Homo sapiens: one gene and its partners. The protein of the gene in region 1 interacts with the protein of each later gene in a pairwise test. Each region holds a gene or a part of one and is shown in the gene's direction. Other genes may lie near its edges. The genes, in order: IKZF3, TRAPPC6A and PRKAA2.

The links.
Region 2: the proteins of IKZF3 (region 1) and TRAPPC6A interact in binary tests that used the Homo sapiens proteins (3 or more experiments, as listed by UniProt).
Region 3: the proteins of IKZF3 (region 1) and PRKAA2 interact in binary tests that used the Homo sapiens proteins (3 or more experiments, as listed by UniProt).

What each region holds. Positions count from the first base shown.
Region 1 is NC_000017.11:39,791,164-39,794,818, reverse strand, and holds part of IKZF3 (zinc finger protein Aiolos), read left to right. Parts: intron 1-1,885; coding exon 1,886-2,146; intron 2,147-3,235; coding exon 3,236-3,403; intron 3,404-3,655. UniProt on the Homo sapiens protein: Transcription factor that plays an important role in the regulation of lymphocyte differentiation. Plays an essential role in regulation of B-cell differentiation, proliferation and maturation to an effector state.
Region 2 is NC_000019.10:45,165,314-45,168,370, reverse strand, and holds part of TRAPPC6A (trafficking protein particle complex subunit 6A), read left to right. Parts: intron 1-3,057. UniProt on the Homo sapiens protein: May play a role in vesicular transport during the biogenesis of melanosomes.
Region 3 is NC_000001.11:56,648,175-56,651,829, forward strand, and holds part of PRKAA2 (5'-AMP-activated protein kinase catalytic subunit alpha-2), read left to right. Parts: intron 1-3,655. UniProt on the Homo sapiens protein: Catalytic subunit of AMP-activated protein kinase (AMPK), an energy sensor protein kinase that plays a key role in regulating cellular energy metabolism.

The sequences.
Region 1 (3,655 bases):
TCTCTTAAAAAAATAAAAAATAAACACTTAAGCAAACAAATTCCACTTGAAAGCAGGGAAGACCTATCCAGAGAAAGAAGTAAACCTCTTTCCAAGTAGGAAACAGATATCATTTCTTATATAATCCAGATCCATAGGGTGGGCAAATTTGAAACATGTTGGACTTATCCTACAGCCCTACATCTTTGCTAGTCAAAGAGTGAAAAGTTGTGAACCATGAACTGTGGTAGGAAGCAGTGGAACTGTGTGGCAGCCCTGGCTCCTCTGATGGTGGTTAGGCCCTGTCTTGCTCTATTAAGCAAACACAGTTAATATAGATGAAAGGTAACCTTGATAGAAGTGAAAATTGAAACTTGGGTTGAAGGTAGCAAGCCAGGCACAGCTGCAGTTGTACTTCCTCCTATGCAGCAAGAGGAGCAACACTTACTGATGTTTTTTGGAAGGGATGTAGTTTTTTAAAATATCTTTTTTCAGACTGTTTTGGGTTTTAACATTTACACCATTGATGGGAGGGTGTGTAATACAGTTGGTAAGAACCCACTTAGGCCTTATATGTCTAGTGCATGAGGTCAAATCCAAGTAATTGATAGTTCAAGCTTAAGTTTTGCATTCTAATCACACCTCTGCCAGTAACTGGATGTGTAACCTTCGACAAATGACCAAAAACATCTCTGCTCCCAGATTTCCTCATCTGAGAAACAAGAGGGTTGGATTAGATGACCTTTAAATTCCCTTCCAGCCCTACACTCCATTGATTTGTGATTCCTCATGGGGAGGTACAACTTTTGATTTCTAAGGACCAATGGTTGAAAAAGTAAGCATTTATATAGCATATTTTATATATGCAAAATCCCTTACAAATGTTTATTATTCTTACATCAGGCAAATTTTTAGGTTTTACTAGTGTCAGTGCAAGTACATAAATTTGCCTTCTTTGTTTCTTATGTTCTTCATATTTTTCCCACGTTCTTCATATGTTCTTATGCTCTTCATGAAGAGTATTACAGCTCTTCTTTTAAATTTCATTCATTTACATTGCAGTTCTTAAGATAGTACTTGGTCAGCCAACTCACTTGAGCCAGTCCCTCCTCTCCTATCCAGTCCTATTACACAATCCTTGAGTCCTTGAGTTTAGTTCTCCCTAACTTGGGACCTAATGGTCCTTCCCCTTATTTAGATTGAGCCCCACTTACCTGTGTCGATGAAAGTGACTCCTTAGGTTATATGAAAGAATTACTTTTCCTTTTGTCTTTCTCAACACTTTTTCATTAGTACTGACAACTTCCTCTACAGTCAATGTTGTGCCTTTATCAGCTCCAAGAGAGACAGAGATAAGATGTGTTTTAGCAATTCATATACGTGGAAGGGGAAGAGGCAATGCATGGCTTAAAATTAGAAAAACTATGTTAACTAGTCAACTCTTAATCTTAATGGCTTACACTGGATGCATCTGAAGGATTCAAACAATATTTTCTCCTTGAAACCTAAGAGTACATCACCTTGCCTTTTTAACTGCAGCCACCAAAAACAGTACTAGATCTGAGAACCCTTCCTCTCCCCTAGTACTGGAGAAGAGTTGCTCAATGTTTGTTTCATGGCCACTTTGAGCAAACTTAGCTAAAATCTATTATCTGTAATTTTCTGGATAGCCTAAAACACTATCGTCTATTTTTATGTGTGTAAGTATGTGTGTTTTCCTCTGACTGTGGTTCTGAATTTAAATAACGTGCGGTCACGCTAATGGTGCTTTCTTGTTTTGTAGATGTACAGTGTTTTGTTAGCTTCGATTGGTATTTAATTGTCAGTTGTGGGTCTCTGCTGTTTGAGCTGCTTTGATAGCTTCAAGTATAGTCGTTGTTCATTTCTTGCATTTTCTTCCCTGCAGATGATTCAATGAAAGTGAAAGATGAATACAGTGAAAGAGATGAGAATGTTTTAAAGTCAGAACCCATGGGAAATGCAGAAGAGCCTGAAATCCCTTACAGCTATTCAAGAGAATATAATGAATATGAAAACATTAAGTTGGAGAGACATGTTGTCTCATTCGATAGTAGCAGGCCAACCAGTGGAAAGATGAACTGCGATGTGTGTGGATTATCCTGCATCAGCTTCAATGTCTTAATGGTTCATAAGCGAAGCCATACTGGTAAATAGTCTGCTTTTTTCATTCTTCTGAAAACTCTCCTAATGCAGCCACGTGAGAAATGAAGTGGTGGAATTTGGAACTTTTGGTTACTTTCATTGATTTTTGCTATAATGCTGATGTATCTCTCTCTCTGCATTGCTGTTCACTCAGTGCTTTTTATTCCTGCCTCACCATGCATTTGGCAAACATATTGCAAATGCTATGAATAAAAAAAGACTGTAGAGAGCACAGTGTTCTAGGTCAGCCAAATACTTTTTCTTCAGTTTCTAAGTAGGAGTTGAATTGTGTGATTTGCTTCTTAGCCATCTTTTGTATATTTTTGCATAACATTTTTAATAAGAGCAGATCTTCTTATTGTATTGGGTTCAAATTTGGTAAATGAAAGGACATAGTTTTTATTTCCAGCTTAAAATAATGTATCTTCAGACAATAAACAGGTAGTCTATAGAAATGCATACAAACACAACCATCGCACTTGAGCCAGTCGATTCCATCCCATATCTCATATGAAGACTTTAAAAAGGAGAATTTCTAGCCCTCAACACCTTGTAAGGACTTTAGTTTCTGGCTCTTTTTTCAAAGGAGATTATATTCAAAAGGAATACTAAAAAATTAGCCAGGCATAATGGCAAACACTGGTAGTCCCAGCTATTCTGAAGGCTGAGGTGACAGGCTCACTTGAACCCAGGAGGTCAAGGTTTCAGTGAGCCATGATGGGACCATTGCACTCCAGCCTGAGCAACAGAGCAAGAAGACCCTGTCTAAAAAAAAAAAAAAAAAAAAAAGGGAGTACCAAGTAATATAGTAATATAAAAACTTAGATCTAGAAAGCACTTCTAGAGCTGCTCTTGTTTCTTTGCTCTGATTCAATATGATACCTAAAATAGCCTTGCTAGTGGGTGCTTTTTCTCTTCTACAGAGGAGATTTCATAAGTAAGTCTTAGGCTTGCCTTGAAATGCAGCTCCCAACTGATCCCAATGTGAACAGTAATTGTCTAAAAGATGAGCTTTTCCCCTAGGCATCTAATCTGTGCATATGTTTCTCCACTTGCCTGTGACCAGAAATCTCCTTTTTTGTCCTTTTTAAAGGTGAACGCCCATTCCAGTGTAATCAGTGTGGGGCATCTTTTACTCAGAAAGGTAACCTCCTCCGCCACATTAAACTGCACACAGGGGAAAAACCTTTTAAGTGTCACCTCTGCAACTATGCATGCCAAAGAAGAGATGCGCTCACGGGGCATCTTAGGACACATTCTGGTAAGTGAGAGAAATGAGCATTCCTTGTCTAGGAAGTGCATTCCTCAGAGCCCAGTGTGGAAACTAGAAAGAGTTAAGTAGGAAGGTTTCAATCTGTCATTCTTGTTCTGAAGGGTTACAACAGCAGAGACCTCTAGGGCTAATTACACGACCATTAAGGCACTAATTGCTCTCCGTCTGCCTCAGTGGAGATGATCATCTCCTCACCATCCTTGCACCCATGGAGAACAACACAGTCAGATAGGAAGAGCC
Region 2 (3,057 bases), on another chromosome or scaffold:
AGCTGGAGGAAGCGAGTAAATGTCTTACTGGTTTTTTGTTTTTTATTTATTTTTTAAGACAGGGTCAGGGCCGGGCGCGGTGGCTCACGCCTATAATCCCAGCACTTTGGGAGGCCGAGGTGGGTGAATCACGAGGTCAGGAGATCAAGACCATCCTGGCTAACATGGTGAAACCCCGTCCCTGCTAAAAATACAAAAAAATTAGCTGGGCGTGGTGGCGGGTGCCTATAGTGCCAGCTACTCAGGAGGCTGAGGCAGGAGAATGGCGTGAACCCGGGAGGCGGAGCTTGCAGTGAGCCGAGATTGCGCCACTGCACTCCAGCCTGGGCGACAGGGCGAGACTCTGTCTCAAAAAAAAAAAAAAAAAAAAAAAAAAAGACAGGGTCTTGCTGTTGCCTGGGCTGCAGTACAGTGGCATGATCATGGCTCACTGCAGTAGCGACCTCCTGGGCTCAGATGATCCTCCTGCCTCAGCTTCCCAAGTAGCTGGGACACGGGTGCATGCCACCACACCTGGCTAACTTTTGTATTTTTTGTAGAGAAGGGGTTTCGCCATGTCGACCAGGCTGGACTCGAACTCCTGGACTCAGCTGGGCGCGATGGCCCACGCCTGTAATCCCAGCACTTTGGGAGGCCGAGGTGGGCAGATCACCTGAGGTTGGGAGTTCGAGACCCGCCTGGCCAAAAGAGAAGAAACCCTGTCTCTACTAAAAATACAAAATTAACCGGGCGTGGTGGCTCATGCCTGTAATCCCAGCTACTGGGGAGGCTGAGGCAGGAGATTCACTTGAACCCGGGAGGCAGAGGTTGTGGTGAGCTGAGATCGCGCCGTTGCACTCCAGCCTGGGCAACAAGAGCGAAACTCCGACCTCCCAAAGTGCTGGAATTACAGGAGTGAGCCACTGCGCCCGGCCTAATCTTTCTTAAACGTATGTATAGCTCACATTTATTTCAGTGTTTAATATTTCAAGTGTTTTCATCCTTATTTAGAAGTTTGGTGATGTGTTTGTACCAGAAATATGGCATTGGAACTTCACTCTTGTTTATGTTAATTAACCTGCGTGAAATTGGTTTCATCATATGTCATTTTGCTTAAAGCCATAGTTTCCAAGAGCCTGTTGACAGCATTAGGTAAGGACTTACGGTGTCCTTTGTTGATGCACGTTGTCTCATCAGCCAGTCTGTTAAGCACCACCCACATGCCAAGCTCTGTGTTGGCTGCTGAAGGCCGGATGTGAATTGGTCAGCCTGGGTCCCCACCTTCACAGAGCTGTGTCCTCATCCAGGGACAGTGTGCAGTGGGCAGGGCTGGGGACGCAAGCTGGGAGGGAGGAAGGGAAGGAAGTCGGTACAAAGGCTCAGAAGTCTGAGCGAATGTCCTCAGGGGGCAGAGGAGAGGGTGAGGGAGGGATGGAGGCAGCTGGGCCCGCAGGCTGCAAGAAGCCTTCCTCGGACACGCTCTCCAGGCTGGGAGACCCGCTCCAGGGCTGGAGCCAAGCAGAGAATTCGCATCCCCATTCGGATGGCTGCGCTGATGGTGCAGCCCTGGAGGGAGGAGGCGGTAGCTGCCATTCCCAAGGGAAGGTGGGGGTCAAGGGCAGGAGAGGGAGGGCTGCAGGGCTCAGGCCTGGTGACTGCAGGCTCCTGAGAGCAGCCAGCGGGAGGGTGAGCTTCCTTCAGCTCAGGGCTGCACACCTGCCGCCTCTGTTCCCCCACTTCTGCTCTGCCAGGCTTTCTCTGAAAAACCTGGCGCCTCACGCCCCAGCCGTCCTGGGATTTCTGGTGCCCCCCAGTCTGGGCCTCCTCCCTTCCTCTGCTTGCAGCAAAACACCCGAATGAAAAAAAAAAAAAAAAAGATCCATGGCCAGGTGCAGTGGCTTTTGCCTGTAATCCCAGCACTTTGGGAGGCCAAGGCGGGCGGATCACTTGAGGCTAGGAGTTTGAGACCAGCCTGGCCAACATGGTGAAACCCCATCTCTACCAAAAATACAAAAATTAGCCGGGTGTGGTGGCACACAGGCCTGTAATCCCAGCTACTCGGGAGGCTGAGGCAGGAGAATTGTTTGAACCCGGGAGGCGGAGGTTGCAGTGAGCCAGCATTGCACCACTGCACTCTACCTAGGCAACAGAGTGAGACTCTGTCTCCAAAAAAGAAAACTCGCCAGGCGCGGTGGCTCACGCCTGTAATCCCAGCACTTTGGAAGGCCGAGGCGGGCAGATTGCCTGAGCTGAGGAGTTCGAGACCAGCCTGGGCAACACAGTGAAACCCTGTCTCTAATGAAATACAAAAAATTAGTAGGGTGTGGTGGCGTATCCCTGTAGTCCCAGCTACTCTGGAGGCTGAGGCAGGAGAATTGCTAGAACCCGGGAGGCGGAGGTTGCAGTGAGTCAGAGATTGGGCCACTGCATTCCAGCCTGGGCAATGAAGCTAGACTCCATCTCTTAAAAAAAAAAAAATCCATGAGCATCTCCTCTCCTCCAGCCATGCCCTCCACACACACAGGCACGTGGACAGACACCGAGTGCAGCCCTCCTACCTGGGGCCTGCCTCTGCCAGCACAGTCCCCTCCTGTATGGACCCTGGCCTACCCTCCAGACACTACATGGCAGCCACTGTCCTTTTCGAGCACCCAAACGAAGATCTGCCTGTCCCGAGCTTCCACGTGTTCCCCAGGGATCTTGGCCAATATTATAAGGCATGATGATCATGGTTGACTTCCACAGCCCCCTTTCCTGTGGCCCAGCCTCCAGCCCTTGGGCAGGTCACCTGGAGCATCTTGGTGGAGTCGCAGCGCCCACTTCCCAGGGCATTGTGAGGGTTCGCGCTGAAAGCACGTGCAGCCTGTCATGGGGGTTATCAGGAAAAGTCATGGAGGAGGAAGGGAGCCTGGGGAAGACCCCCATTGTTCCTGAGGGAAGGGGGAGCTGGTTCTTGGGGGCTGATGATCTGGGGATCCAGAGAGCCTGCAAGGTCTGCAGAGGTGGGTGAGGGAGCCCCAGCACCCTAGAGGCCTGCCCCTGCCCTGGCCGGGCTGTGCCAGAGCCCCTCCCTGCTCA
Region 3 (3,655 bases), on another chromosome or scaffold:
TTGAGGACACCACAGTAAGATTCTTTATACCCATTCACAGTTAATCTCATTTCTACCCTCAGTCCCAGGAAATCACTAATCTGTTTTCTGCCTGTATAAATTTGCTTTTTCTAGGCTCTTCTTCATAAACGTGATCGTTCAATATGTCATCTTTTGTGTCGAGCTTCTTTAACAATGCTTTTGAGATTCATGCATGACATAGCATGTGCCATTAATTTGTTCCTTTTTATAGTTGAATAATATTCCATTGTGTGGATATGCCACATTTTGTCTATACAAAACCAGTTGATGGTCATGGTTTCAAGTTTTGGGCTATTATAAATAATGGCACTACGAATATTCACATGTAAGTCTTTGTGTGGACATATGTTTTCATACACCTTGGGTAAATAACTAGAAGTAGAATTGCTGGGTCATATCGTAGTTTTATGTTTTACTTTTTGAGAAACTGCAACACTTTCCCAAAATGGTCACACCATTTTATAACATTCCCATCAAAGATGTATGAAAGTTCCCTTTTCTGAGTATCTTTGCCAACATTTGTTATTGTCTGCCTGATTTATTATAGCCATTCTAGTGGGTGCGAAATAGTATCTCATTGAGGCATTAATTTTGCGTTTCCCTAAGGACTAATGATGTTGAACATTGTCTCACGTAATTACTAGTCATTTATGTATTTTCATTGATGGAATGTCTGTTTATATCTCTTGCTTATTTTCTAATTGGGTTACTTGTCATCTTATAAGTTGAGTTGTGAGGATTCTTTGTAAATTGTGGATACAGATCCTTTAATGGATATATTTTGCAAATATTTTCTTCCAGTCTGTTGTGTCTTTTCATTTTCTTGTGTCTTTTGAAGTATAAAAGTTTTGAATTTTCATGAGGTCCAATTTATTAGTTTTTAAAATTATTTTATGGACTATGCTCTTGATGTCATAGGCAAGAAATCTTTGCCTAGCCCAAGTCTCAAAGATTTTCTTTTATGTTTTCTTGTAAATATTTTATTATTTTAGCCCTGATGTTTAACTATGTGATCTATTTTGAGTTAATTCTTATGTATGGTGTGAGATGAGGTTGTAAGGTTAACTTTTTCCATGTGGATAACCAATTGTCTCAGCAGTTTTTGTTGAATGCAGGTGCATTTTTAATTGTTGTAGATTTTAGACATTGCAAAATGAATTTCTACTAAAAAAGCTAATAGGAGATGATGTAATTTTAAAAGCTTGGCCAGGTGTGGTGGTCCATGCCTGTAATCCTAGCACTTTGGGTGACCAAGGCAGGAGGATCCCTTGAGCCCAGGGGTTCAAGACCAGCCTGGGCAGCATAGGGAGACCCTGTCTTTGATTGATTGATTGATTGATAGAAAGATAGATAGATAGATAGATAGTTAGATAAATGGTTATAAAAACATGGAAATGGAGAAGTAAGGAACATTTTATGTGCTTTCTCTCTTGACTTTTTTCCTTTTTCTTATTTGTTTATTAATTAGTTTTTTTTAGGGACTATGTTGACCAGGCTGTTCTCAAACTTGTGGCCTTAAGCAGTCTATCTGCCTCAGCCTCACAGTGTTGGGATTACAAATGTGTCCCACCATGCCCAACTTTGACTGTTATGCTAATTATAGATTTAGAAATTTTAGGCCAGGCACGGCGGCTCACGCCTGTAATCCCAGCACTTTGGGAGGCCGAGGTAGGTGGATCACTTGAGGTCAGGAGTTTGAGAACAACCTGGCTAACATGGTGAAACCTCATCTCTACTAAAAATACAAAAATTAGCCAGCTGTGATGGTGCGCGCCTGTAATCCCAGCTACTTGGGAAGCTGAGGCAGGAGAATCACTTGGACCCGGGAGGCGGAAGTTGCAGTGGGCCGAGATTGTGCCACTGCACTCCAGCCTGGGTGACAGAGCGAGACTCCGTCTTAAAAAAAAAAAGAAATAAAGAAATTTTAACTTCAGTTGTTGATATATCAATTTATGGACCAAAGTTAGGGACAAAAAGCAAAAATTGAAAATGGAATAGTTTTAACAGCAGTAGTTTTAATTTGTTTTTTAAAAGTATATGGAAATCTTTGTATTTGTTAATAAAGCCTTATTTAAAATGTTTTAAATTTTGTCCTTCATTAGTCTATTGTATTATCAGGTTGCTGAGGGACTGTTTTTGGAAACAGATTATATGGGCTGACAGAGTTTAAAAGTAATGCTTTTTATCTATTTAAAATTTTTCTCTATATTGACTGTTTAGGCTCTCACTCTGGGTAGGGTAAAACTGTTAGAGAGTTCTTGTAATTAGACTTGTTCATTTCTTATCTAACTTCTCTAAAGGTGATAGAAATTCTAGAAGAATGGTCCTGTTGTTTGTGTTATATAAAGACTGATTGAAGAAACAAAATTATAGTGCTAATTATTTATTTAAAAAGAAGCCTGCATTTTCAAGATGAGTAGTAGTATATATGTGGTTTATGATTTAAACAAATTTTTTTCAACATTTTACTCCAGAAATATGTTTACCCATATGTGGTTTATGAAATAAATATTCTTCATTGGAATTGTACACCAAGGGATACTTAGGTTCTTTCTTGTCGGCAAAGTCTCACGAAGAAGTTACCCTTTCCATTTTTCAAATAGTTACATGACTGGCCTACAGACTGCTTTCAATAAATTAAGTAAATATTTTACTAATTCCCCACTTGTTTTTGAGATAACAGGAAGGATAAACCAAAACTTAAACAAACAAACAAAAAGTGTTACCTTATTTTGAAATGTAAATATCAAGTCCTAAATGATAAATCAAATTTCACACAACTGTCCCATCAATTGATGGAGCTAAAAGTTATGTCTGTGGTATTTTGGTCCCTTGCTTGACTTGTGTGCTAGTGTGGAAGCCCTGAACAATTTAACTCCCTGGGCCTTGTTTTCTTCCCCTCCTAAAGGATAACACTGGAGTAGCGAATCTGTGAGGTCCTTTACAATGCTATCATTAAACCGATTTTTAAAAGATTTAACTCCAAAAAAATGGGTATATTTAATTATTCATCCTGGTTAATGAAAATTTGAGTTCCTGAGTCTGAAATGTAGATGTAATGTAGAACAGGGGAAAAGGAAACATATTTTCAATACTTCAGTGATAAAAGGTACAATTTGATTAAGTTGTTACTATATTCTAATCACTGTATGATATATGCACTTGATTTTTTTTTATTCCCAGAGTAATCCTCTAAGTTTGGTATTATCTCCATTTAACAAATGAAGAAATTGAGAATCAGATACTTTAAGTAACTTGTCCAAAGTTCCAGTGCTATTAAGTGGTAGAGCTAGCAATCAAATTCAGGGTTCTCAGACTGCAAAGTCTCTGCTCTATGGACTGTAAAGTCAAAATGCCTAGTATGTTCTGAGTTTCAAACCTACAAGGATATAATTTTCTATGTCTGCTCATATTTATCAGAATTGAGAAAATAAGATTTAAATGTCTTTCAGTCCATATTTAGAGATAAATAACGTTTTTTGAAATGCCATATATAGATGATTAAAATTTATATTTTTACTTTTCCAACATTTACTTGGATGCCTCAATCTTTCATTTCTTATTATAAAATGTGCTGAATTCTACCAGTTTTAACCCATGTTTATTAGAAATACTAGTGATTTCAGTGTGTTTA